4 linked regions of the Homo sapiens genome follow. The protein of the gene in region 4 purifies or fractionates together with the protein of the main gene of each other region. This does not show direct contact. Each region holds a gene or a part of one and is shown on either strand. Other genes may lie near its edges.

Region 1 (7,024 bases), on a different chromosome or scaffold from region 4:
AGATGGGTAGATTGCAAAAATTTTCTCCCATTCTGTAGGTTGCCTGTTCACTCTGATGATAGTTTCTTTTGCTGTGCATAAGCTCTTTAGTTTAATTAGATCTCATTTGTCAATTTTGGCTTTTGTTGCCATTGCTTTTGGTGTTTTAGTCATGAAGTCTTTGCCCATGCCTGTGTCCTGAATTGTATTGCCTAGGTTTTCTTCTAGGGTTTTTATGGTTTTAAGTCTTAACATTTAAGTCTTTAGTCCATCTTGAGTTAATTTTTAACTGTTTATTTCATTACATTAGAAAGTTTTACTTCTGGCTGCCAGCCAGCTTATTGACTTTTTCTTAGGTGTAATTGTTTTCAGTTGATCCCCTGTTTTCACAAGGAACAGACAGAGGTCACCAACAGTAACAAAGTAGGGGAAAATGCCCTGAAGAAAAAGTTTAGTATGTGATAGGAGCTCAAAACCTCATTTTGCTTGGCAAGTCAGGGAAGGCCTTCTAAAGGAAGTATTGTTTAAATGGAAACCTGAAGGCTGCAACAAGAGTTAGCCAGACAGGTCGGAGGAAGAGCTTCCAAACAGAGAGGACCAGCATGTGTGATGGTCTGGAGGCACAATGCACCAGAACCTGGAGCAGAGATGAGTGGCCAGAAAGACAAACAGGGTACTTGAGACCATGTTAAGGAATTTACATCCAATCATGAGTCTAGTAGTCAGCAACTGGAGGTTTTTGAGCAGAGCTGAGATAGATTTTTAAATAATTACTCTAGCTGCTTTGTGAAAAATGGACTAAAGACTGGGAAAGGAGTCCAGTCAGGAAGCAGTTATAGTAGTTTAGCAACTTACTCATGTTGGACTAGGCTATCATTGATACCATCCTTCTCTTCAGCCCTTTAGTCTTTAAGGAGTAAAATTTAAATTTGTATTGGGTTGAAAAAGTACATATTGGAAAACATGGGATTTTCTGTTTCAGATTGGCCACTAGTAGACTATATTTTATTACTGCATGGCTTGTACTTTATAAAAAGCATATGTTGACACATTTGTCAGGTTTCCTATGTTATTCGAGATGAAGTGGAGAAGTACAACCGAAATGGAGTCAATGCTCTGCAGCTGGATCCAGCACTAAATAGACTTTTCACAGCCGGTCGAGACTCTATCATAAGAATATGGAGTGTCAATCAGCACAAGGTAATGCAGGGATTAAAATCTGTACCCAGCAAATTCTGGACAAATGGCTTTTACTGTCTAATATGACACTTTTCACAGTTTCAGATTTAATCTCTCTGAATGCTGAGTTATTTGGTACACTCTATAAAGACATCGCAACCAGAATTCTGTAAGCCTCTGAGAAAAACCATCCCTAGGAAAGTTTCAGAAGTGTTTCAGCTAAGACAAGGACTCCCTAAACTAGGTTTGCCTTACAGAGTTCTTTGCCACAAAGGAACAAAGTGATTTGGCTAGTAGGGGGATTACTTTCAACAATTAATTTTTTTGCTTTAAATATGTTCCCCAACAACCTCTTGGTAACCTTACTAAAAAAAGATTGAATATTCTTTTACATTTCTAATTAATCTTGAAAAAATATTTTATTTTCCTCACTTAAAAGTAATTAGGATCCTCACAAACCCCACACGGCCTAACTAGGTAATACAAGGTTAGGCTGAGCATGGTGGCCCACACCTGCAATCCCAACAATTTCGGAGGCCAAAGTGAAAGGATTCCTTGAGTCCAGGAGTTCGAGACCAGCCTGGGCAATGTGACAATACCCTGTCTCTGCAAAAAAAAAAACTTAAAAATTAGCTGGGCATGGTGGCACACACCTGTAGTCCCAGCTACTCGGGGAGCTGAGGTGGGAGGATCACTTGATTGAGTATGGGAGGTTGAGGCTGAGTGAGCCGTGATCACACCACTGCATTCCAGCTTGGGCAACAGAGGGAGACCTTGTCTCAAATAAATAAATAAAGATAATATAAAATTGGTGTTAAAACTATGAAGACAACATGCTCCCCTTCAAAGATTTCCCTTTCTTAAGCAGGGAACAGGGTTTAAATATGTGTAAAGATAAATCCCCAGGCAAATGGTAACGAGCCCTTTTAGTATTTTGTTGGAACACCTATATTGTGAATGACAGAGAAAAGAAGAATCAGGGAAGAAAAAAAGAGCATTTATTGATCTTCTAATTATGTGCCATACGCTCTTTGCATTTTCATATCCAATGTGATTTTAATTTTCAGTGTCCCTCAAGGTACCTATTAGGATCCATTTTCTTTTTTTTCTTTTTTTTTTTTTGAGATGGAGTCTCGCTCTGTCACCCAGGCTGGAGTGCAGTGGCGCGATCTTGGCTCACTGCAACCTCTTGACTCCTGGCTTCAATCAATTTTCCTGCCTCAGCCTCCTCAGCAGCTGGGACTACAGGCACACGCCACCACATCCAGCTAATTTTTATAATTTTAGTAGAGACGGGGTTTCACCATGTGGGTCAGGCTGGTCTCAAACTTCTAGACTCAGATAATCCAACTGCCTTGGCCTCCCAAAGTGCTGGTATTACAGGCGTGAGCCACCGCGCCTGGCCAGATCCATTTTCATAGATGAGAAAATGGGCTCAGAGAAACCCATGGTTATGTGGCTAGGAAGTGACAGAGAATTAGTACCCAGCCCAACTTGAAAACCCTAGTGCTAGACCTTGTATTTTTAAAAGTTTGTGTCTTTTTAGCAAGTTTTACAAGTCTGATATTCAGTTCAGAAAAAGAACCACTACTTTATGCGCCTATAACTTCAGTCTGGCAGGCTTTGAATTCTTTAGCCAATGGACCATGCAGTGGTGGCCAAATGTCAAAAGCATGAAAAGTAAGAAAACTATGTTTGGCTTTGAAATGCTTTTTGGTACTTATAATTGAATTGGAATGTCTCCTTTCTGAGCATTCACAGTATTTCAAACAAATTAAGAAAAACACCCAAAAGAACTAACCTGAAGAATCTGGAAATCTGCCTGTCTTGCCCCAAACATCTTTTTTCTGGTCTTCCTTTTATGACAAGATTGAATAGCATTATTTGTCAAACAGACTTGTACAGAGCTGTTCTGTTTGCCCATAAAGTGTCTCAAACTTGCCTGTTTTAGGTGTAGGATGTAACTAAATACTGTTCTTTAAAAGGCCTCTCCTGGTTATTAAGCCAGGTAAGAGAAGTAGAATCTCGAATCACCTAATTGAAATGGTGACACAGGTTGTCCTTTCTCAGCCGTTGGGTTTCCTTTCATCTCTGAAGGCCTGTAGGTACCATGAGGAAAACATTTAATTCAGAGGGTGAACCCAACAGTAGGAAGCTGAAAGCAGAAGTGTTTATCTCCCTCTGCATTCAGACCAGGCTCCTTAGTGCACTCATCAGACTCATTGCTGCCCCTGCTGTCTGCTGTTGAGCCTTCACCACCACTCATTCAAATCCCCACAGCCTACAGATTCCTACAAGTCATGTCCTTTCTAGTGAACCCTTTTTAAAGGGTTTTATGTCACACACAGTGCCTAGTCCAGAGCTTGTTGCCTTCACTTTAACAAGGCAAAAAAAAAAAAAATGAAGTATTTGTCCTGGAAACCTAAGCTTTCAGTAAGAGTAAAACTGTCCTGAAACAAAACTGTTTACATCTGTTATCTGGAAGCATCACCTATTTGGTGAGATTCTACTCAGAATTCAGGTGTTAGTTTTAATGCCTAGAGCAGTATGTCACATTAATTGAAGAATTTAACCATATCTATCATTTGTAATATATTTCATTCTCTCATATAAACTCTTAGGATTTTTCTTTTAATTTCAGCAAGATCCATATATAGCATCTATGGAACACCATACTGATTGGGTAAACGACATTGTACTCTGTTGTAATGGGAAAACATGTAAGTATTTCTTTGGATTATTATTGGGCTTCTGATATATTTTTTGTTTTTTATATAAGCTTTTTTATTGAAACATACATACAGAAAAGTACACACACTTCGAGATTGCAGTTCAACACAATTTTAGAAAGTGAATACCCAAATCAAGAAACAATATTACTAGAAGCCCTCTTGTGCCACCCTTTGCCACCCTTTCAGTTATTCCCTCTTGCCCCAAGGTAACTGCTCTTCTGTCTTCTGAACACCAAAGGGTAGTTTTGCCTTCATTTGAACTGTATATAGACTCGTACTATATGTATTCTTCTTTTAGCCTTATTAATACCTCTTTTTGTTCTAATTTTGGTGAGATCCATTCCTTGGTTTTGCAGTCCGAGTTACAGGAATTTTTCTCAATCACATTAGTTGAGCCTTCAACTGGAACATTAAAAATGTTTGCACTGCTTGTTTTAAAAATATATTTTTTTCTTTGAACATGTGTCTTGAGATTTTAAAAAATTGAGGCAATATACAATAGGTTCTAGAAAGAGCTTTTAGGTATGTTTGTGTGTGTAAGAGAGAGAATATGTTAGTTTGAAATAATGTTACATTGTTGTAAGATAAGTTTTCAAAGTTTTAAGTCATACTACTAAGGAGTTTGTTAATTCTTTGCTTCTTCTAGTAATATCTGCTTCTTCTGACACGACAGTAAAAGTATGGAATGCACACAAGGGATTTTGCATGTCAACATTAAGGACACATAAGGTAAAACAATACAGTTCTCAGTGTCTTTAGTGTAATATTGGGATCTCAGTACTTTGTGTGGCTCATTTTATTACTGATCTACAGAATAGATCATAGTATGTCTGTTCTATTACAGGATTACGTAAAGGCCTTAGCATATGCCAAGGATAAAGAACTAGTAGCATCAGCTGGGTTGGACAGACAAATATTCCTTTGGGATGTGAATACTCTAACAGCATTGACTGCCTCAAATAACACTGTCACAAGTAAGGTGTTTAAAAGAAACTTCTTTGAAAGTGATCCAAGTTAACATAAATAAAGAATGGTTTATAAAACATTTTTGATAGGTTTGCATCGAGAGAGTGTTTCATATTTTGAGAGTGCTTCTACCTACAGCGTTCTGGCCCCCAAGAGTATGATTGAACAACAAAGAGCTAGTTCCTCACTGCAGTCTAAAAATGGTAACTTCTCCAGGTATAACCTGGTTATTTTTTGTACGTGTGCATGTCTTAGCTCCCTAGCTAAAATGTAAGTCCCTGCAGGGTAGAGGAGACTGTCTTACTACTTCGTATCTCCCACAGCATTCCCTGGTCCAAATCCATACACTCAGCAGGTATTATTGAAGGAGGTGGCGATTTTCTGACAAAGTAGGCGGTTTTCTGACTTTTTAAAGTGTTAAGAGCTTTTGAGTTAATAGCCAAGATGAAAAATACCCAGGAGAAAGAAAGAAAAGGTTTCCAGTGCCAGTTTATCAAATTTTCTGCCTTTTAGAGCAGCCCTGAGGAATCAAGCCAATTCCAGAAGAGCCAGAACGGTAGAGTGCTTCTAGAGGCAATCCAGAGATGTTCACAGCATGGATGATTCATCAGCTAAGAGATCTCAGACTACCAAGTCAGGCTCATACAAGTCTAGATTTGAAATTGAGCTTCATGCTTGGCCCAACCTAGTAGAGTCCTCTAGGCCAGGTTTCAGAAGGGACTGTTAGGAGCACATTTTTGGCTAGGCCTGACCTGGAAAGTCTACATTGAAGACATGGGCCTGCATTCTCTGGATCCCTACATTATAGGTCCATTTTATAACGACTCTGTGGAGTGTTCACATTGACATAGACAATACAGTTTTACTAATATAGCCTAGTATGTGCCAAGAAGGGTAAGTTGGGAGACTTGTGTTTATAATCTCTTGATTGTTGTTTTGCCTTGTTTTCCAGGAAATATGTGAAGGTCTCAACATTCTTTTTCCCTTGTTCTTGATTTTTCACCTGTACATTATCTCTGATTCATTAGCTGGTCCCTGTTGGGGCTGTCATGGTACATCATTAGGTTTTAAGTCTGGATGTAAGGCCTGCCTCAAAGAGACACTAATGGGAGGGAACAAAGCAAAAAAAAAAAAGCAGGTTGTCACAAGGTCAGGGCCCAGGCTTAGTGGATACAGATTCTGCTACATCTTGCTTAGAGTTGTTTAGAGAGGATATCACACTTTTTTTTAATACATAATAATAAAAATAATACTAATAATGGCTAACCTGTATTGAGTACTTGCTACAAGTAGACATTTTTCTAAACAGTACATGTAGTAACTCATTTACTCAACTTTTTAATATGTTTGTAAAATTGGGTTCATACTATATAGACAGTTTCATATACATCTTTTTTACTTCAGTGATACTGAGAGTATGAACATGATTTTTGCTATAGTCTGAATTCCTTCCTGAAAGGTTGTACCTATTTATCTTCACATAAGTAATATATGAGAGTTCCATTGTACTGTTTTCTTTTTACAATCAAGTATTACCTTGTTTTTTGTCTTGGTGTATGAAACAGTGTTTTTGGTTTGATTTGTGTTTGAAAAATACTGAAATTGAACATTTTTTCATATTTATGGCACATGAATAGCTTTAAACATATCATTTAAGCGGATAGCTTTTCAATGGCACTGCAGTTTATCAGATATTGAGCATTTGTATATATTCAAATCCAGAAAATATGTAAATTTTGATAATAATACTGTTTAGATTTATCTCCATTATAGGTAGATTTCTTTTCCGTAGAGGACTTATAAAGATAAGATTTTCTAAATTGAATAAACTTGCAGTTTTTGCTGACTAGTTACTAAACAGCTGATGATCTTGTTAACATTTAGCTCCGTTTATCCTCAATAGCTTCTTCTTTAAGTGGAAACAAAGATTCCATTTATAGCCTGGCCATGAATCAACTGGGAACAATCATTGTATCAGGGTCCACTGAAAAGGTAAGGAGGAGCTTATTTCTTTATTTAAAAAAAAAAATTATTTTTCACATACCTTGTCTCCTATTTTTTAAGCAGGTATTTTACGATTAGCTTCTTTATATTTATTTATTTAGAGACTGGGTCTCACTCTGTCACCCAGGTTGGGGTGCAGTGGCATCATGATCCTGGCTCACTGC
Region 2 (7,587 bases), on a different chromosome or scaffold from region 4:
CTGCCTCCTCTAACTGTGGGGGAGCAGCCCAGCAGGTTAATAAAACTTACTTGACTGACTTCAGGTCTCTTCGTCCTTTCGGCTGACCTTACAGCTCCTGGTTTTCCGGAGCAGGCCCTGTCGGCTTCCTGTACTCAGTGGGTCCTTCCTGCTGCTTTTTTTTTTTTTTTTTGAGACGGAGTTTCGCTCTTGTTGCCCAGGCTGGAATGCAATGGCACGATCTCAGCTAACTGCAACCTCCGCTTTCCGGTTTCAAGCGATTCTCCTGCCTCAGCCTCCCGGGTAGCTGCGATTACAGGCGCCCACCACCACTCCCGGCTAATTTTTGTATTTTTAGTAGAAATGGGGTTTCACCATGTTGGCCAGGCTGGTCTCGAACTCCTGATCTCGTGATCCGCCGGCCTCGGCCTCTCAAAGTGCTGGGATTACAGGCGTGAGCCACCGCGCCCAGCCGCCTCCTGCTTCTTTTTCCGGAACACCGGTCACATGAGTGTGCACGGAATTCCAGACTCCGTGTTCAGTGAAGCCATCCCTCCACCTTGGAGCTGGAGAGACTCCCAGGTCACAATGGAACAGGTAGGAGGCCCTGATGTCCTCCAGAGATCAGGAATTTATGAGGCTATTGGTCCCATGGCCAAGGCTTCCTACACGTTACTTCTTCTCAGGCTACTCCTTTTCAGCCAAGAAAATAAAAACATGCCTTAAAGGGAACAAAATTATTAAATGCAGGGAAAAACTGGAGTAAACCACTTTTTTTTTCTTTTTTTTTGAGACGGAGTCTGGCTCTGTCGCCCAGGCTGGAGTGCAGTGGCACGATCTCAGCTCATTGCAACCTCTGCCTCCCAGGTTCAAGAGATTCTCTTGCCTCAGCCTCCCGAGTCCGAGTAGCTGGAACTACAGGCATGTGCCACCATGCCCGGCCAATTTTTTTTTTTTTTTTTTTTTTTTGTATTTTTAGTAGAGACGGGGTTTCACCGTGTTAGCCAGGATGGTCTCGATCTCCTGAACTCGTGATCTGCCCGCCTTGGCCTCCCAAAGTGCTGGGATTACAGGCATGAGCCACCGTGCCCGGCCTGGAGTAAACATTCTATAAAGGTATTGCTACCAGAAAGGGGTCCAGTCCCAGACTCCAAGAGCAGAAGCTTGGACCTTGTATGGGAAAGAATTAATATTGGAGAAAAAACTGAAAAAGTAAGTATATCGAACTGTATCATGGGACAGAAACATGTCATTCCTATTTTTACTGAAGATTATCTTATTTGATACTATGTGATTATTAAGTCCTATTACATTTCCTTTCTCCTTTTACGAAGTCATGTATCTTAATAATATGCAGCCGGGCACGGTGGCTCAGCCTGTAATCCCAGCACTCTGGGAGGCCCAGGCAGGCGGATCATGAGGTCAGGAGTAGGAGACCAGCCTGCCCAACATGGTGAAACACCGTCTCTACTAAAATTACAAAAATTAGCCAGGTGTGGTGGCGCATGCCTGTAATCCTAGCTACTAAGAAGGCTGAGGCAGGAGAACTGCTTGAACCCAGGAGGAGGAGGTTGCAGTGAGCCGAGATCACAGCATTGCGCCTGGGCGACAGAGCATGACTCCATCTCAAAAAAAAAAAAAAAAAAAAAAAAAAAAAAAAAAAAAAAAAAACCAGAGCCGGGCCCGGTGGCTCACGCCTGTAATCCCAGCACTTTGGGAGTCCGAGGCGGGTGGATTACGAGGTCAGGAGTTCAAGACTCAGCCTGGCCAAGAAGGTGAAACCCCGTCTCTACTAAAAATACAAAAAATTAGCTGGGTGCAGTGGCAGGCGCCTGTAATCCCAGCTACTCGGGAGGCTGAGGCAGGAGAATCGCTTGAACTCCGAGGGCAGAGGTTGCAGTGAGCTGAGATCACGCCACTGCACTCCAGCCTCCAGCCTGACAACAGAGTGAGACTCCGTCTCAAAAAAAAAAAAAAAAAAAAAAACCAGAATATGCAGTGGGTGGCCGCAGCGGGTCACACCTGTAGCACTTTGGGAAGTCGAGGCAGGCAGATCTCTTGAGGCCAGGACAGGAGTTCCAGACCAGCCTGGCCAACATGGTGAAACCCTGTCTCTCCTAAAAATACAAAAATTAGCAGGCATGGTGGTTCATGCCTGTAATTCCAGCTACTAAGGAGGCTGAGGCAGGAGAATCATTTGAACCCAAGAGGCAGAGGTTGCAGTGAGCCTAGATTGCAACACTGCACTCCAGCTTGGGCAAGAGTGAGACTCCGTCCCAAGAAAACAAAACAAGACTAGGACTGGGCACCGTGGCTCACACCTGTAATCCTAGCACTTTGGGAGACTGAGGCGGCCAGATCATTAGAGGCCATGAGTTTGAGACCAGACTGGCCAACATGGCGAAACCCGTCTCTACTAAAAACACAAAACATTAGACTGGGAGCGCTGGCTCACACCTGTAATCCTAGCACTTTGGGAGACCAAAGTGGGCGGATCACAAGGTCAGGAGTTCGAGACCAACCTGGCCAACATAGTGAAACCCCATCTCTACTGAAAATACAAAAAATTAGCCAGGCATGGTGGCACGCGCCTGTAGTCCCAGCTACCCGGGAGGCTGAGGCAGGAGAACCGCTGGAACCCAGGAGGCGTAGGTTGCAGTGAGCTGAGATCGCACCACCGCACTCCAGCCTGGGCAACAGAGTGAGACTCCGTCTAAAAAAAAAAGTACAAAAATTAGCCGGAGCGGTGGCATGCGCCTGTAATCCCAGTTACTTGGGAGGCTGAAATGGGAGAATCGATTGAACTCGGAAAGTGGAGTTTGCAGTGAGCGGACATCGCGCCACTGCACTCCAGCCTGGGCGACAGAGTGAGACTTCATCTCGAAAAATTAAAAAAAGAATATGCAACAATATAAGCTACAAAATTTAAATATCCAATAAATTTTAAGTTTAAATAAATTTGCTGTATCAGAGGACAAAAAGAAACATAAAATAGTTACTGTTTGTCACACATACTGTTTAATCCTACTAATTGGTACTGTTAAGTAGTCCTATTGTGGTTTTGTTCAAATAGCATTTATGCAACAGTACAGTTAATAATATAGAACTATATAATTTCTTTTTTTTTTTTTTTTCAGACAGAGTCTCGCTCTGTCGCCCAGGCTGGAGTGCAGTGGCGCGATCTCGGCTCACTGCAAGCTCCGCCTCCCAGGTTCAGGCCATTCTCCTGCCTCAGCCTCCCGAGTAGCTGGGACTACAGGCGCCTGCAACCACGCCCGGCTAATTTTTTGTATTTTTAGTAGAGACGGGGTTTCACTGTGTTAGCCAGGACGGTCTCGATCTCCTGAACTCGTGATCCGCCCGCCTCGGCCTCCCAAAGTGCTGGAATTACAGGGGTGAGCCACCGCGCCCGGCCTAGAAGTATATAATTTCAAGTAAACACCAGTTTTTCATTTTTTATGTTAAAGTGGTAATTTCTTTTTTTTTTTTTTTTTTTTTTTGGAGACAGAGTCTCGCTCTGTCGCCCAGGCTGGAGGGCAGTGGCACAATCTCCGCTCACTGCAAGCTCTGCCTCTCCAGTTCGCGCCATTCTGCCTCAGGCTCCGGAGTAGCTGGGACTACAGGCGCCCGCCACCACGCCCGGAGAATTTTTTTTTTTTTTTTGTATTTTTAGTGGAGACGGGGTTTCACCGCGTTAGCCAGGATGGTCTCGATCTCCTGACCTCGGCCTCCCAAAGTGCTGGGATTACAGGCGTGAGCCACCGCGCCCGGCCTAAAGTGGTTTTTGTAATTCATTTTTCTTTTTTTTTTTTTTGAGACAGTCTTGCTCTGTTGGCCAGGCTGAAGTGCAGTGGAGCAATCTTGGCTCACTGCAACCTCCGTCTCCCGGGCTCAAGCAATTCTCCTGCCTCATCCTCCCGAGTAGCTGGGATTACAGGCATGTGCCACCACGCCCGGCTAATTTTTGTATTTTTAGTAGAGACGTGGTTTCACCATGTTGGGTCTTGAACTCCTGATCTCAGGTGATCCACCCGCCTCGCCTCCCAAAGTGTTGGGATTACAGGCGTGAGCCACCGCGCCCGGCTAGTATTTGTAATTCTTATCTATCACATTAAGGCTCTTGTCCGGTGTGGTTGTGTTCCGGGGCGGTCCCCGACCCCGCCCCTCACAAGCCCCGCCCCCCGCACCGGGCCCCGCCTCCTGAACTCCGAAGCTCCCGACCCCGCCTCCGCAGGGTCCAGGCTTCGCCCCTGGTGACAGGTGGTGCTGGTGTAGTCAAGGAGGAGGGCTCGCTTTTTTTGGTTCAGGTTGTCATGGTGGCGCCCAAGCCCGCCTTGCCGGCCTTGTCTTTTCCGGTCTCAGTCCGGCGTGGCAGCGGAGGCAGGCACCGTTAGGTCTTCCAGTCCCTCTCTGTCATGGCGACGCCCAGCCTCTTCTTCCGGCCACAGCCTGTCATGGCGGCACCCGAAGTAGTCCCTGCCGGGGCCAGCCTGTTCTGTTGCCCTGGCTCTTCCTAGTCCAGGCTGCCATGGCGGCGCTCAGGGCTTACCGGAAGTAAAACTTCGGAAGTGAGGCGTTCCTCTGCCCGGAAGTGAGCGCGGCGCTAGGAAAGATGGCGGCAGCGGCGGCGGTGGGCAACGCGGTGCCCTGCGGGGCCCGGCCTTGCGGGGTCCGGCCTGACGGGCAGCCCAAGCCCGGGCCGCAGCCGCGCGCGCTCCTTGCCGCCGGGCCGGCGCTCATAGCGAACGGTGACGAGCTGGTGGCTGCCGTGTGGCCGTACCGGCGGTTGGCGCTGTTGCGGCGCCTCACGGTGCTGCCATTCGCCGGGCTGCTTTACCCGGCCTGGTTGGGTGCCGCAGCCGCTGGCTGCTGGGGCTGGGGCAGCAGTTGGGTGCAGATCCCCGAAGCTGCGCTGCTCGTGCTTGCCACCATCTGCCTCGCGCACGCGCTCACTGTCCTCTCGGGGCATTGGTCTGTGCACGCGCATTGCGCGCTCACCTGCACCCCGGTAAGTGTGTACACGCGAGCCCGACCCCCAGCACGGTCGAGCCTCGCCGTGGGTCCCAGCTGCGGCCTTCCTGTCGGTCACCATCGCGACCTGGGCCACTCATCTGCCTGGCCTGGATTCCCAGGGGCACCCTCTACACTTTGGCGCAGGCTTAATCATGACCCCACTGCTGACTTGCTGTGCATGCCTGGTGCGGGTTATTTCCTTTTTCTGAAGTCCTCCCTGTTATGGTCATTTAGATTCAGTGATGTAATACTTGTAAAAGGCTTAGCGCAGGGCCCAGCATACGTCGCCCAGGTCAGGTAGGAGTTGTTTATACTAGTTCCCATATTAGCGACTACTCTTGTTCTGGAAACGGCCCTACCTTCCATCTCATCTGTCTCCTACCTTGGTTTTCAAAGTGTAAGGCGAGATCACTGGGATAGGTTTCCCCCATCTATGAAGCTTAGTTGGTTCTTAGACTGAACCAAGTCTTGCTGTCCAGTGCTTAGTGGTCTTCCATACTGTGATGGAAAGGAGCATGAAATGCAGTTAATTACAGTGTTGAAGAGAGGCAGAGGTGTTTATGAGCGAGTCATTTACATGATGTCTTTCCGCAAAATGAGGGTGGTGATACTGAGTTCTGTCGGGGATACAACAGCAAGCAAGGTCGCGCTCCTGACCCACAGTTTAGAGTTCTGAGTGACCAAGTGTCGTCGGAGGAGTTGGTGACTGTGAGCTTCCCTGGGCCTGAAGCAGTGACTGTGTCGTCTCTCTCTGGGCCTGCCTCAGGTGACACCAGCAGGTTTGGAGCCATGGACACTGAGGTATATCAGGAAGCTTCCCCTCTGATTCCAGGAGTGTGTTTGCCTCAAGAAGAGGAAAAGGGAACAGCATCAAGGGCTACAGAAAGACAGAAGCCCCCCACCCTGGCTGGCTCTGAATGTGGGTAGAATCCTCATTCTCCTCTCCTGAGAGACAACCTGTTCTGTCCTTCAAAAAGACTTATCTATCCCAGGGGAGGAGCTCAACGTGGTAGCTTTGAGGTAGTACAATGAAAGACACCAATGAGGGACAAAATAAAGGAGGGGTTAAGGGGACTGTGGCACCGCTCAAACTTCAGCTGCCTTTTGACCTGCAGCTAAGCAGCTTAGCTCTTAACTTCCTCTCCAGGGATGGAGAAGTGGGAGGAGCTGAACAGCCATCAGCCAGGAGAGGTGGATCTGGGTTTGATTCAGATCTCAGAAAGGGCCGCTTCTGCTCTCTGAGTTTCAGTTTCCCCCTTCTGTAAACTGAGAACCGTAACTAACAACTACTGGGTGCCATCTTGAGAAGCGGAGATGATATCTGCAGAGTGCCCGCCCTGGGGCCATCACAGCGTATAGCCTCTTGTACCTTTCTTCCGTGACGTCACGTTTGTAGTTATGTGATTGTTGTTATTTGCTGCCTGCTTTGGAGGCCCATGAACCACCCGTGCGGTGGCGCTTTGTTTCTGCGGGTCATCATTGTGCTCCCCCCATCTCCATGCAGCTCGTCTCCATGCAGCTCGGTCTAGCAGAGCAGCAGAGGAATGGATGGCGGTTCACGGGGTCCAGGGAGCACTGAACGAGTTCCATTCAACATTTCTGTGTCTTAGGTGCTGGGGAAACAGCAGTGAACAAAACAGGCAAATCCCCCTGCCTTTGTGGTGTTACTGGGAGGGAGAACTCATAGTCAGCAGTTGATGCCAAACAGAGATGACATCTAACATCAGGACAGGATGGGACATTGCCGGGAACTTTAGATGGGGCAGCCAGGGAGGGGCTCCTGAGAAGGTGATGTTTCAGCAAAAGCCTGAGGCAGCAAGGGAGCTGTGTGACTGTGTATTCCGGGCAGAGAAAACAGCACATGCCAAGGCCCTTTGCTGAGGCACGATCGAGCCCCATGTGCGTGTGGAGCTGTGGAGTGTAGTGAGCAGGGTTGGTGGAAGAGGCAGAGCTGAGCAGGAGGCCGGGGGCCTGTGATGGGGCGGGGGCTTGGCTCACGTGAATTGAGGACGTACTGGGTGGGTGCCTGGCAGCGTTCTTCCTATTTGAGTTCATGTCACCTTCAGCAGAGCAGAGCCCTGGGCATTAGGTGCTGTCTGTGCACCCAGCTTCCCAGCTTTTTTTGTTGTTGTTTTTGTTTTTGTTTTGTTTTTTGGGGTTTTTTTGTTTGTTTGTTTGTTTGTTTTTGAGATGGAGTCTGGCTCTGTTGCCCAGGCTGGAGTGCAGTGGCACAATCTCGGCTCACTGCAACCTCCGCCTCCCAGGTTCAAGTGATTGTTCTGCCTCAGCCTCCCGAGTAGCTGAGACTACAGGTGCCTGCCACTATGCCCAGCTAATTTTTATATTTTTAGTAGAGACGGGGTTTCACCATATTGGCCAGGCTGGTCTCAAACTCCTGACCTCGTGATCCCCCCTGCCTCAGCCTCCCAAAGTGCTGGGATTACAGGTGTGAGCCACTGCACCCAGCCTTTTTATTTTGAGACAGAGTCCTGCTCTGTCGCCCAGGCTGGAGTGCAGTGGTGCAATCTCGGCTCACTGCAAGCTCTGCCTCCTGGGTGCACGCCATTCTCCTGCCTCAGCCTCCCAAGTAGCTGG
Region 3 (7,024 bases), on a different chromosome or scaffold from region 4:
GCCCGTCTTACCCCTGGGACTCCCAGCGCCCAGCACGGAGCCTGGGATGTTAGAGCGCTGGGTCAAGGCATGTTGAGAGAAGCACGGGCAGTTTGGGGGCCTTGGAATCAGCCTGACGCCAGCGAGTTCCTAACCCGCCGTCTGGCCTCCAGTTTCCCCTCTGCACAATGGAAAGCCTGCTCTCCACGGTAGAGGTGACAGGGCGTGGCTAGGCAGATTTGTCACACTGCTGTGGTCTTTGTCAGAAGAAAATCAAAATGAGAGGGCCCAGTTAGGGGCAGAAGGAGAGCAGTTAGAATTTGCCGAAGGTGTGGGGGCTGGAAGAGGTAAGGTGATGTGTAGGGGCTGGATGTCCTGGGCCAGGATATCGGGAGGCTTTACTCTTCCCCACTCCCACTAACCGGAGGTCCCGAGAGGAACGGGGTCTGGGCTGCTCCCTGCCACCTGTCAGCAGGTCAAGCCTTCCACCGGAAACTGCCCCTTATTCAAGAATTTAGCTTCTCTCAAAAACTCCGAAACCCCTTTTCTCTCTCTCTCTCTCTCTCTCTTTTTTTTTTTTTTTTTTCAATGCTCCTGGCCTTGGACCCAGCACCCAAAGACATGGATTAGCCCTATCCACTAGGACAGAGCATTGCAGACCCACTAAGCCTTGGAGAGAGAAAAGGATCTTGTTCATTCTTAGTCCCCAGAATGACCAAGACAAACCCCGTTAGCCAAACCCCTAAAAAACTGTTTGGCTTAGGTTAGATTAGCTCCAAGTGTTTGACCTTGAAGGGGAACACCCCACCCAGAGTCTTAACTATCCTTCTCTGGAAGGATTCTTCAGGCAATCTGAATTCTTCCCCCGAAGGGCGCCCCTCAGACAAGGCTCCCTACCCAGCCCAGTTCCCTGCTTCTCAGATAAGCATTGATTCCTGTCATCCCAGTGGGTATTTGGTGGGTAGGGGTGAGAAGGAAAGAGGGATGAGAAAAGCAAGGCCTCTGCCTTGTCAGACTGGGATGACAACCTTTCTCCACTCATGTCCCCTTTTCTGCAGGTCATAGGATTAGAGCAGGCCCTGGGGCTGGAGTCCAAAATGCTTGTGTGGAATGTTTTGCCCTTGGCTTCCTCTGCCAGTATCTCTCCTTGTGTCCTCTTTCCTCTTTCCCTTGTGTGAGCCATTCTTGTTCCACTGACTTATTTCCTCTGTACATGTTAAAACAGAAATGACAGGGACTTTCTATTTCTGCCTCTACCTTAAGCCAGTCCTCTGTGTTCAGCCTACATGAACTTGAGTTGAGGAGGGAAACCAGGCAGGATCTAGTGAGGACCAGAGCCAAGGGCTCTGGGTCAGGGAAGAGGCTTGAGAGGCAGTCTATGTGTGAAGGATAGTGGAGAGGCCAAAGGAAAGGAAAGGATTGAGAACATAGGTGCCAAGGGGCAGAGCCCCCATTTCTACCTTTCCTCACCCCAGTTCCTCTCTGCCTAAGATCCTCAGCCTCATTACTCACCTCTGCTCTAGTTTCCCAAGTTTCATGCACAAATCCCTGGGACAACTCAGGGAAGATGAACTGGGATGGGATTACTAAGACCCCCTTCCTCTTGCCTTTCTGCCACTTCACTTGGGGTGTGGCAAAGGGAGTTTGGAGCAGTGCGTTTATTGGTAGGAAGGTCAGGGACTCTCAGCTAGGTTCAAGGAAAGTCTTAGCTTAGAACACCTCATGGCAAGGTCTACCTAGGTTGCGAAATCAATGCCAGGAATACAAACAAGTAGTATACCCTCAATACTAACAGCCCATCTAACATCCCAGGCTCCGTGCTGGGCGCTGGGAGTCCCAGGGGTAAGACGGGCTGTTAGTATTGAGCCCGGGAAGTTAGCAATATCTAACAAAGCTACGTACACATTTACCCAGCAATCCTACGTCTAGGAATTTATCCAGAAGGTGCTCATTCACAAATATGGAAAGCTACGTACAAGGTGATTTTTGTTTGTTTGTTTGTTTGTTTTTTGAGACAGAGTCTCGCTCTGTCGCCCAGGCTGGAGTGCAGCGGCGCGATCTCAGCTCACTGTAAGCTCTGCCTTCCGGGTTCAAGCAATTCTCCTGTCTCAGCCTCGTGAGTAGCTGGGATTACAAGTGCTAGCCACCACACCGGCTAATTTTTTGTATTTTAATAGAGATGGGGTTTCACCGTGTTGCCCAGGCTGGTCTCAAACTCCTGAGCTCAGGCAATCTACCTGCCTGAGCTGGGATTATAGGTGTGAGCCACCAAGCCCAGCCACAAGGTGGTTTTTAAAGGCATATTTACAATAGGAAATCATTGGAAACTATCCAAATGCCCATTCTTTAAAAAATGGTTAAACAAACAATGGTACAGTCCATACAATAGAATCCTAGGTAGCCAAAAAGAAAAAAAAAAGAATGACTAGGAGCCCTGTGAACTTATATGACATGATTGTTAGGATATATTATTAAGTGAAAAAACCAAGACATAGTACAGTATATAGTATGCCACCTTTGGGATAAGAAAGCAGGAGAAGTAAGAAATTTTTTTTTTTTTGAGACAGAGTCTCGCTCTGTTGCCCAGGCTGGAGTGCGGTGGTGGGATCTCGGCTCACTGCAAGCTCTGCCGCCCGGGTTCACGCCATTCTCCTGCCTTATCTTCCTGAGTAGCTGGGACTACAGGCGCCTGCCACCACGCCCGGCTAATTTTTTGTATTTTTAGTAGAGACAGGGTTTCACCATGTTAGCCAGGATGGTTTCGATCTCCCGACCTCATGATCCGCCCACCTCAGCCTCCCAAAGTGCTGGGATTACAGGCGTGAGCCACCACGCCTGGCCTAATTTAAGTACTTTTTAACCTTCATTCCCTGATTCTATATTCATATTTTAAGTAAAAAAAAAAAAAAAAACCACCTACAAAGAAATCTTGACCTTTACTTTGTAGACATGTTATTGGTTGTGGTATTTGTGTCATAAATTGGAAACTGTTTCGTTTATTGTATGATAGATGAAATGAGTAACTATGGTGATATTTCTGGAAATCAGGGTCTCACTATGGAAAAAGAGAGATATAAGTATGGAATGGGGGAAGGGGAAAAAGAATCTTTCGGGGTTTTTTTGTATATCTTGTGGGTCTGTCCACTGAAAGGACTGTGGAAAGGAACACACCTAGTACCTGGATTTTTATTTCTAAGTACAACTTCCCACGGGGGAGGTTGTAAGGAACAGTGCTCCTTGAAAAAATGACTAATTTCAAGTCTGAGACTGGGAAAGTATAAGTGAACTGTGTTGTGCCAGAAACTAGAGCATGCTCATGTCATGACATGTTGTCACAGGAGCTGGCTTAAAGGGTCTCCCGCCAACCAGAGGTGAAACACATTAAGCATTCCAAAGGATAATGGTAATAGATTGTAACACATTGAATATTAAAAATTCCTTGAGTCTATTTTGACAGTTGACATGGACAGGGAGGAGCAGGGAGGGAAAACTCTGAACAGAAATGCCAACGAGGCCAGACACAAGGCCTCACTCTGTAATCCTACCACACTGGGAGGCCAGGGCAGGAGGATCGCTGGAGCCCAGGCGTTTGAGGCTCCCATGAGCTCTGATCATGACACTGCACTCTAGAATGGGTGATAAAGCAAGACTCAGTCTCAAAAAATTAAAAAGTAAATGCCAGTTGGGCGCAGTGGCTCATACCTGTAATCCCAGCACTTTGGGAAGCCCAGGCAGGTGGATTACTTGAGGTCAGGAGTTTGAGACCAGCCTGGCCAACATGGTGAAACCCTGTCTCTACTAAAAATATAAAAATTAGCCGGAAATCGATTGAACTCAGGAGGCAGAGGTTGCAGTAAGCCAAGATTGTGCCACTGCACTTCCAGTGGGAGACAGAGCGAGACTCCATATCAGATAAATAAATAAATAAATAAATAAATAAATAAAGTAAATGCCAACTAATAAAATCTAGTAGTAATGACAAGATTTTTCTTTAAATTTAATTTTATGTGAGGCTGAGGTGGGTAGATCACCTGAGGTCGGGAGTTTTAGACTAGCCTGACCAATATGGAGAAACCCCGTCTCTACTAAAAATACAAAATTAGCCGGGCGTGGTAGTGCATGCCTATAATCCCAGCTACTCGGGAGGCTGAGGCAGGAGAATCGCTTGAACCTGGGAGGCGGAGGTTGCAGTGAGCCAAGATCACACTATTGCACTCCAGCCTGGGCAAGAAGAGTGAAACTCCGTCTCAAAAAAAATTTTTTTAAATTTAATTTTAATAGAAAAATACTAGTTTCATATATGTATGGGGTGTAATGTGATGTTTTGATATATGCATACATTACGGAACGATTAAGTCAAACTATCAACATATCCATCACCTCACACATTTATCGTTGTTTTTGTAGTGTAAACATTTAAAATCTCTCTTAGCAATTCTGAAACATGCATTACATTAACTATAGTCACCATGTAGTGCAGTAAATCTCAGAAACATTCCTTCTGTCTACTGAAACTTTGCATCTTTTAGCCAACATTATCTTTATTTACCTACCTATTTTTAGAGATAGGGTCTCACTCTGTCAGCCATGTTGGAGTGCAGTGGCCCATAGCCTTGAACTCCTAGGCTCAAGCGATCCTCTTGCCTCAGCCTCCCAAAGCACCAGGATAATGGGTGAGACACAGTGCCAGACTGGAACTTTAAATTGACCAGTTTGCAGCCTCTACTATAATAGCTGATTTAGTCTAGCGTTTAATGGATACTAAAACCACTGGGTGAAAGATTGGTCTTAGCATATCTTAGTTTGGGCTGCTAAAACAACATCATAGACTGGGTGGCTTAAGCAACAGAAATGCATCTCTTTGTTTGTTTGTTTGTTTTTGAGACCGGGTCTTGCTTTATCATCCAGCTGGAGTGCAGTGGCACAATCACAACTCACAGCAGCCTTGATCTCCTGGGCTCAAGCTATCCTCCCACCTCAGCCTCCCAAGTACCTAGGACTACAGGCGCATGCTATCATGCCTGGCTAATTTTCATATTTTTTGTAGAGACGGGGTTTCACCGTGTTGTCCAGATTGGGCTCGAAATCCTGGGCTCAAGCAATCCACCTGCTTCAGCTTCCCAAAGTGCGGGGATTACAGGCATGAACCACCGCACCCGGCCCCATTTATTTATTTATTTATTATTTTTTGAGATGGAGTTTTGCTCTTGTTGCCCAGGCTGGAGTGCAATGCTGCAAACTCAGCTCACCGCAACCTCCGCCTCCTGATTTCAAACGATTCTCCTGCCTCAGCCTCCTGAGTAGCTGGGATTACAGGCATGTACCACTACACCCGGCTAATTTTGTATTTTTAGTAGAGACGAGGTTTCTCCATGTTGGTCAGGCTGGTCTCAAACTCCCAACCTCAGGTGATCCACCCTCCTCAGCCTCCCAAAGTGCTGGGATTGCAGGTTTGAGCTATCACACTCAGCCCCCATTTATTTTTGAAACAGGGCCTTGTTCTGTCACCCAGACTGGGGTGCAGTGGTGCAGTCATAGCTCACTGCAGCCTCAAACTCCCAGGTTCAAGCAATCCTCCGACCTCAGCCTCCCAAGTAACTGGAGCAGGTGCATGCCACCATGGCTGGCTAATTTTTTTGTTGTTATTGTTGTTTTGTTTTTTTGTAGAGATGGATGACATAGGAAGACTCCACCTCTACAAAATAAAAAATTAGCTGGGCATGGAGGCTGTGCACCTGTCTGTAGTCCTAGCTACTCAGCAGGCTGAGGCAGGAGGATAACTTGAGGCTGCAGTGAGCCGTGATCATGAAACTATACTCCAGCCTGTTGACAGAGTGAGACCCTGTCTCAAAAAAAAAAGGTGAAACTAAGTAAAGGGTCTGCAGTTGTTTATTGTGCTATTTTTTTCAACCTTTCAGGTTTGAAATTTTTCCAAATACTTAGCCAGAGAGAGAAGTCCATGCCAGAGGCACTCCTAGATTCCTGGTTTCTTCTCACTTTATCTGCAAAACTCCTGACCAATAGGAGTGTCTTTTCTAAGCTCTTGGGTGCTGAGAGTCCCCATGGAGCACACAGAGGGATCTTCTAAGAAAGTAAGGTCCTTTAGGAAGCCTACCTTCCCACCCTCACTGCTCCCCACCCACAGCCTCTCCTGTCCAGACAGGAGCACCTGGGCCCTGATGAGTGGGCCACAAAGGGAGGTAGGATGACAGGCATTCTCCCACCATGCCATGGGGCCAGCTGAGGGAACCTGGGGACTGAGGGCTTCCAGAGTCACCCACCTAACTTTTGAGGAGACAGGTCCCAGGCTGTAAGAGAAGAAATTCACCAAACAGCCCAGAGATTGTTGCTGACCAAACCTTTAGTGTCCCTTAGAATTCTCTAATTAGGTGATTCTGAAAGAAACCAGCAAGCAGTGCCTGCCTGGAGCCTTCATGCCTGAGCTAAGCAAGGCCTTCTAGGCACTCCCTTGGCAAGGGCAGCACACCTGGCTGTCCTGTCATTGACCCAAATCATTGTGCTACCCACCCCCGCCTCCCCATCCTGATCGTCGCTCTGGAGAGAGATTGAGTTTCCAGGATGGCTTCTCTCTCTCTTTTTCTCCCTCTCTTCTCCTGGAAACCCTGGGGCTAGGCCCTACATGACTCAGGGCTCTTTTTACGTAGGCTCATGTAGGTGACGGCTATTAATCCTTTAGTCAATTCCCCTTCTGTGTTGGTGAGGGAGCCTGAAAGAGCGGGAGCCAGGAAGTTGGAAGGGGGCAGACAGGGAGGAGTTTGTTCTAGTGGGCTGCCAGGCTTGCCAGAAGAGCACGGGACTGGGAGTCAGAAAACTGGTAATCTGGACTCTTGTCTGCTGTGTAACCTTGATTGAAGCAGGGGATATCTCTGGGCCTTCATCAACTGCACTGTTACATGAAACCAAGTTTGGACATACAGACATTCCTGATTCAAGACCCTCCTCTTCTATAGAAGACAAAGGAGTAAAACTCTCAATGCCCAAACCAAACTCTTTTATCACAGATAGAGTCTAGCACAATGTAACA
Region 4 (7,024 bases):
GCCTGGAAAGGCTAGAGTAACAGGGGCTAGGGACAGGGAGGAGAAAGGAGCCACCTGAGGCCCTGGGCAGGCTACTTGGTGCTCCACTGAGCCCACGATCTTTAAATTTGGACTCCATATTTGCGGGAGAGGTGAGACCATCTACTAAGTGAGGGGAGGAAAGAGAAGGGTTTGCTGTTCCCCTGTCCTCCTGGCCACTTCAGCTCCAGCAACCTAGAACCTCTGCCTCAGTTGTAGCAAAAACAGAAGCCTTGCCTTCCCCGGGTAAGGATCAGGTGTTCTTGTTAGACCATGCCCTTTGGGGGTCTTACCTTCTACTCCAAGGAGAAAACACAAAATACTTCTAAATTCAACAGTTTTCTGTCTCAAAGGAGTTCTAGAGGGAATAAACATAATTTTAGCCTTTTGCTGAATTTCTAGTCATGTGTTTGCTGCCCTTGTGAATGGGACCCCTCAGACAATAGCCTTGCAGGCTGCCTCTTCATCTGATCCTGGTCGAGGACCTGGTTGGGGGCGGTGGCAAGACTGACTTGATGCTGAGGGAGGAACTCATGACAGGCTCCTTGCCTCCCCTTCCTTCTTTTGGGGCCAAGACTGTGCAGGACGATGGGGGCTGGCTGAGTCTATAGGATCAATGACCTCTCGGAATCCACCAGGGTCAGTGAGTTTGAGGAAGTGAGGAAGGAGCTTGCTGACCATCCCTGGGAGCTTTAATGTTTACTTCTATCTTGCAGAGTTTTTCACTGAACTTCACCCTGCCGGCGAACACAGTAAGTACAGCAGCCCCCATTCACCAGGCAACGCAGAGAAGACCAGTGCAGAATTTACAGTAGGTCTCCAGAACTCACATAAACCCCTCACACACGGTGATAAGTTACACAGACTTTCTTTTTTTTTTTTTTTTTTTTTTTTTTTTTTTTTTTTTTTTGAGACAAGGTCTTGCTCTGTCACCCAGGCTGGAGTGCAGTGGCATGATCTCGACTCACTGCAACTTCCACCTCCTGGGTTCAAGCGATTCTCCTGCCTCAGCCTCCTGAGTAGCTGGGATTACAGGTGTGCACCACCATATCCGGCTAATTTTTGCACTTTTTAGTAGAGACAGGGTTTTGCCATGTTGGCCAGGCTGGTCTCAAACTCCTGACCTCAGGTGATCCGCCCACCTCAGCCTCCCAAAGTGCTGGGATTATAGGTGTGAGCCACCGTGCCCGGCCATTTACATAAACTTTCAAAACGCACTGAGGAATAGTTGAGAGATGCTGAGAGAATTTATTTCCATTATAAAACTTATAAATACACATTTTGAAAAGGAAAATAGGAAAACAACAACAACAATAAAACACCTAAACTCTCATCAGCAGAAAACTGGTGTAACCCTTCCTGTCCTGTTTGGCGTTACATAAATTTTGACTTTTGTTGCCTTTGTACTATTGTTTTCTTACTCTACATATAATTTTATATCTAAATGTTTTCCACTAGTCTTTATAACCATAACTGTTATATGGTTAATCACATAATCATGTGATCATATTATGATCGCATAATATTTTTTCAAGTTAATTATTTCTTCAGTTGATTAACTATCATTAGGAATAACTTTGTGATACATGGCATTTTAGAGAATCCTTATCTGCATTTAAGATAATTTCCTTGTATGTATTCTAAAATGGGAATGATTGGGTCAACAAGAATGAACATTTTATGGCTCTTGATTATGGCATTTAGTTGCAAGTCAAAATTGAGGTTTTCAATTGTCGATGTTAGAGTTTCAATCCACAGCTGATCCTCCGTCTTCTGTTTGCACATTGCATATAGATAACACTAAGAGCCAAGGTTGTTATCTGATCAGTAGCACTACTATGGTTGAGCAAGGCATTTTTCTGGCCCAGTTTTTTAGTGGGCTTGGCTGTGCCACATTTTTCTGATAAGTTGTCTGGTTATTCAAAGAGAATAAACTGAATCTTACTCGTAAGAGGACTCCTAAGCCAGTGCTCATTTTACTGAAACATGGGGGCATAGTTCTAGAGAGTAGCATAAAGTTAGAACATTGTGACTTATTGCTGGACCTGTGGTGCCCACCACTGTCTGCCCAGACCTCTGTGAACTGAATACATTGGCACCTGCTCCAGCCTCTGGTGGGGGGCACTTCTGAACCTCCCCAACTTGCTCTGCTTCCCTGCTTCAGCTTCTGCCTGTTGGTTTCAGGCAAATTCCCTAATTCTTCCTCTTTTTCCTGTCAAAACCTTTTCCTTCAATCACTGCTGGAACTTTCCCCTGGCTGTTGGAACCCAGCAGGTCCATAGACACTCCAGGTTCTGTGTTATCTTGGCCCATCACATCAAGAGAATGCAGAGAAGCAAGAAGCCATTTCTTGGGGAGTGGGGGTGAATGGGGTGGAAGAGAGCCCTTATGTGGCCAGTCATCACCCTTTGGAGTACTCTCTTGGTTAACAGCTCATTTCTCTGAGAACTGTCTCTTCACCCCTTTGATCCCGTGTAGAGCAACCAACCATTTTGCTTTGCCTGGTGTTGTCTGTTTTTAGCACTGAAAGTCCTGGGCAGCTCTCTGGACAATGCGGATGGTAGGTCATCCTGCCTGGAAGTCACATTTCTACTGCATAACCCTTCCACTTCAGTGCAGCTGGGTAGCCTGGGAATGCCAGTGCCCTGGGAAGTGGGACAGAGGTGGGCACCTGGATCCCTCTCTGCGGGAAGTTTGGAACAGGGCTCCCTGCTGGCCAGTCCCTGCTGAGGACTGAAATGCCAGGTTCAGTCTATTTGTCAGTTCAGTCCATACTGAACTGTCAAGTATGAAAAATGGGACTAAGACACTGCATTAGGCCATGGAGGCCATGTAGCACAGTGGTTAAGAGCATGGATCCCAGAGCCAGACTGCCCGGGGGGGTGTCACCTAGGGCTGTGTGACCTTACACAAGTTACTTCACTTCTCTGTGCCTTGCTCCTCTCATCTGTAAAATGAGATCATCATAGTCCCATTACTATTCACTGGCAGTTGTATAGAATAAATAAGTCAATATGGGAAAAATTCTTGAACAGCCTGGCACATCCTAAGTGCTCCATGGCATTAGCTGGTACAATTAGCAGGAGTTTATGAGGGCAGAAAAGTCCATCTGGAGAGAAAGAGAGAAGCAAACATCAGAGAACAGTACAGGCAGAAGGCCGTGCTGCTCTGGAGCGAAGGAGAAAGGAGGGTGCCTTCGGTTCACACAAGTTCCCCGTTCCAAGGTCCACTCCCTGGAGAAACCAGCTTCCCACCTGTCCTTGGGCTCCATGGGACACTCCCATATTCTTAGAGTTAACACCTTCCTTTTTTTTTTTTTTTTTTTAGTGAAAGCCACCCTAAGTGTATTTCTGTACTCTGAAGACAGGAAGCCTTACCTGAAACAATGGCTGATTCTTCCTACTACCCTTAGAGCACCTTAGGGAAATGCAGGATTAAAGTAGTGTGGGGGTAGGGGTTGGGGAGATTGTGATTAGGTCAAAGGACAACCATTTAAGTACCAAGTTTCAGTGCCTGGTCATCAAAACCTTCTTTTGATGGGAGCTCTCTGGGAAAGAGGTCTGGGCTTGGAAGTCAAACATCCAAGTTCAGATTAGAGTTATGATTATCTGTGAAACCTTGGACAAGCCCCATAACTTCTCTGAGATCTATTACATTTTTTTTTTGTAAAATGGAGTTAATAATTGTCAAAAGTCCAAGCCCCAGGACTCCAGTATACTTGATGAGATTGCTGAGAGTATTAAATAAATAACAGATCTGGACAGAGCTTTGCAAAGTGTAAAGGGCTGACAAGAGTTCATAGTTCTGCTCCTCATTCAATCCTCCTAATAACCCTAGAGGCAGCTACTACTATCCCTGTAGATATTGTGTAGATAGAGACATGCAACCCCTTAGCTTGTAAATTGAGAAATGGCTGTTCTATGGCAGGCAGTGTGAGCCCAGGACCTGTGCTCTTAATCCCACAGCATACCACTTAGTGTAGTTTACATAGTTTCTCATGCAGAACTTTATTCCTTTAGATTTCCTAATCAAGGTAAACTCTTGCCTGAAATATCTTATAAATGAGTGAAATCCAATAACTCATTGGACCAATAACTCAGTGGACCAGAAACATGTAATGCATTCATTTCATGTAGAATTATCCCCAGGAGCATGGATATTTGACAACTTCTGCCATTTGTTTCATCACATACTTGAAAACAAGCAAGGCTTCCTTAAAGAGCCTTGCTTCCACCAGTATTTATATGTGTTTCCCTTCTAGCAATGGGGACAAGTAGGCCCAAAGTGTGCCAGGTGTGCTGACTAGGGACAGGAGGAAGCCCTTTTGAGTTGTAAAATGTGTCACGGTACATCCACAGGGTGAATAATGAAGACATTGCCTGAATTTCCTAATTCTTTTCTCCTTGTAGCCAAATTTTATTCCAATTCTTACCTGGGAAGCAATCAAGTTAGGTTCTGTTTGGTAGTTGTTAACAGAAAGTTTAGCAAAGGGATAAACTTTAGGCTTTATAGCCTAAACTTTGGCAGATTGTCTTGTATAATGTATATTCTATAGACTTTTTGTTCTTTTACAATATATGTTCTTTTTCCATACAGACGTCCTCTCCTGTCACAGGTGGGAAAGAAACGGTAACTATATCACTTAAATTTATAAAATGGGGATAATAATAATGCTCCATCCATCTTGAGCATTTGTTTTGAGCTTTAAAGTTTGATAGGTGAACTGTCACTAAGCACAGAATCTGGCTCAAGAATTATTCTTGACCAGCTCCGCTCAAAAGTGAGGGAGAACATGCAAAATCACAGATGGATTTCACAAAGGGTTGAGCAAAAGAAGCCAGACACAAAGAGTGCATATCTTATATTTGCATCTATATTATGCTGAAAAACAGACAAAACTACTCTATGGCAATAGATTTCAGAATAGTGGTCACGCACAAGGAGGCTGGAAGAGATTTGAGGGGGATCCTGAGATACTGCTAATGTTCTGTTTCTTGATCTGGGTGTTGGTCTTATGGGTGTATTCCTCATGTGAAAAGTCATCCACTTATATATTTGTGATTCATATACTTTATTATTCTTCAATAAAATCAATTTCCCCCTAAAGTGAAGTGAAGGTGAATCCATTATTAAATAACAGTTGCACTTTTATAGGGTTTCTGCAGATTATCTTCAATATTTCCAGATAGTCTGCAAATCTGAAAACTTATGTAACTAAAAGCATGACTATTTCCACTCCGATCAAAGCAAAATGGGAATTTGAAAATTAATAGGTTAATGCATTTATTGCAAATAAATTTTTTTTGAAAGGCTAAATGTCACTTTTTTATTTATTTATTTTTATTATACTTTAAGTTCTAGGGTACATGTGCACAACGTGCAGGTTTGTTACATATGTATACATGTGCCACGTTGGTGTGCTGCACCCATTAACTCGTCATTTACATTAAGTGCAAATAAATTTTTTTAATTCATATTAAAATAGTGTGGTATGGCTGGGCATGGTGGCTCAAACCTGTAATCCCAGCACTTTGGGAGGCCAAGGCAGGCAGATCATGAGGTCAGGAGTTAGAGACCAGCCTGGCCAACATAGTGAAACCCCATCTCTACTAAAAATACAAAAATTAGCTGGGTGTGGTGGCATGCACCTGTAGTCCCAGCTACTCAGGAGGCTGAGGCAGAAGAATCGTTTGAATCCAGGAGGCGGAGGTTGCAGTGAGCCAAGACTGTGCCATTGCACTCCAGCCTGGGCAACAGAGCAAGACTCCATCTCAAACAAAAAAAAAAGTGTGGTGTATAATAAAAGCTTTTATTTTTAGCCAAACAGGTGAAAATGACATCTAATTGTTGCTCTGAATTGTATCTCAGCTTTTCCTACATTGAAGAGACATTTGTATTTCTGTTCTAAAGAATACCTGTTCATATCCTTTGCCCATTTTTCTACTTGATCATTACTCTTTCCAACAGATTTAAACTGTGTAAATTAAGTCCTATGAAAGTAAGTCATTTGTCATGTGTGTTACAAACATTTTTGCACAGTATTTCATTACCCTTTTGATTTTGTATATGACGTTTATGATCCATGCAGATTTTTTGTTTTATTTTTATTCTATTGAATTTTTCCTTTATTATTGAAGACTCTGGGCTTCCTCTGACCCTGTGTTTTTCATTCTGTGCCAGGACTGTGGGCCCTCTCTTGGATTAGCGGCGGGCATACCATTGCTGGTGGCCACAGCCCTGCTGGTGGCTTTACTATTTACTTTGATTCACCGAAGAAGAAGCAGCATTGAGGCCATGGAGGTGATTACTAGCTTCTTTGGGTCCAGATGTATAGGCAGCCACCAGTATTTCAGTGAACTGGCTTTTGGACTAAGGGTGTCAGAATTCAGGGCCCATGTCTATTTCCTGAGGACAAGATGCTGGAAGTTTCTGGGCCATAATTTCCACTGCAGACATGACATTAGGCACCAGACAGAGCTGATTTGTCATAAAACCTTCAGGTCAGTTGAGGAATTCCTGACAAAGATGGTATTTGGGGTAACAAAAAGTAGCAGTGGAGAAGGATGTCTGTTGCCATGGCAAACACATGTCTGTACAGTGGGTGTGCTTTCTAAAGTTGAGAAACAAAAGCGCACAAGCTTCACAAAGAAAGGATGGAGATAACGTTAAGAAAGATAGGAGATGAAGAGGGGCTGAGGTGTCCATGATAGACACCATGATAGAATCACAAGGGAATCTATATCCTCCCCATCCAATCCACCCCTCCAATGCCAGACTGTTCTGGGGACTATGCTTAGAAATCAAAAGCCACCTAGACTCATATCCAACAAGGTTCCATGGTTGTGACACAACTGTGTCATGTGGACTCTGGGTTCTAATTCTATTCTCTATTTATTGACATTCAAGGTTGTTATCATATGGGTAAACATTAATTAAGAGATTGAAAATTGAGGTTCTAAACCTGACTCTGCCACTTTATGATTTATATGATCCTGGACAAGTGACT

What was found.
Region 1: the proteins of OPALIN (region 4) and WDR48 purify together in Homo sapiens (co-immunoprecipitation; 2 studies listed by BioGRID and IntAct, with this or other methods). This does not show direct contact.
Region 2: the proteins of OPALIN (region 4) and ATP13A1 purify together in Homo sapiens (co-immunoprecipitation; 2 studies listed by BioGRID and IntAct, with this or other methods). This does not show direct contact.
Region 3: the proteins of OPALIN (region 4) and ATP2B4 purify together in Homo sapiens (co-immunoprecipitation; 2 studies listed by BioGRID and IntAct, with this or other methods). This does not show direct contact.

What each region holds. Positions count from the first base shown.
Region 1 is NC_000003.12:39,062,012-39,069,035, forward strand, and holds part of WDR48 (WD repeat-containing protein 48), read left to right. Parts: intron 1-1,038; coding exon 1,039-1,179; intron 1,180-3,799; coding exon 3,800-3,878; intron 3,879-4,536; coding exon 4,537-4,619; intron 4,620-4,734; coding exon 4,735-4,864; intron 4,865-4,945; coding exon of another isoform or gene 4,946-5,059; intron 5,060-6,759; coding exon 6,760-6,848; intron 6,849-7,024. UniProt on the Homo sapiens protein: Regulator of deubiquitinating complexes, which acts as a strong activator of USP1, USP12 and USP46. Enhances the USP1-mediated deubiquitination of FANCD2; USP1 being almost inactive by itself.
Region 2 is NC_000019.10:19,660,671-19,668,257, reverse strand, and holds the start of ATP13A1 (endoplasmic reticulum transmembrane helix translocase), read left to right. Parts: upstream 1-4,581; 5' UTR 4,582-4,591; coding exon 4,592-4,987; intron 4,988-7,587. UniProt on the Homo sapiens protein: Endoplasmic reticulum translocase required to remove mitochondrial transmembrane proteins mistargeted to the endoplasmic reticulum.
Region 3 is NC_000001.11:203,629,823-203,636,846, forward strand, and holds part of ATP2B4 (plasma membrane calcium-transporting ATPase 4), read left to right. Parts: intron 1-7,024. UniProt on the Homo sapiens protein: Calcium/calmodulin-regulated and magnesium-dependent enzyme that catalyzes the hydrolysis of ATP coupled with the transport of calcium out of the cell. By regulating sperm cell calcium homeostasis, may play a role in sperm motility.
Region 4 is NC_000010.11:96,349,001-96,356,024, reverse strand, and holds part of OPALIN (opalin), read left to right. Parts: intron 1-734; coding exon 735-770; exon of another isoform or gene 771-829; intron 830-2,496; exon of another isoform or gene 2,497-2,569; coding exon of another isoform or gene 2,570-2,578; intron 2,579-4,614; coding exon 4,615-4,647; intron 4,648-6,198; coding exon 6,199-6,318; intron 6,319-7,024. UniProt on the Homo sapiens protein: Central nervous system-specific myelin protein that increase myelin genes expression during oligodendrocyte differentiation. Promotes oligodendrocyte terminal differentiation.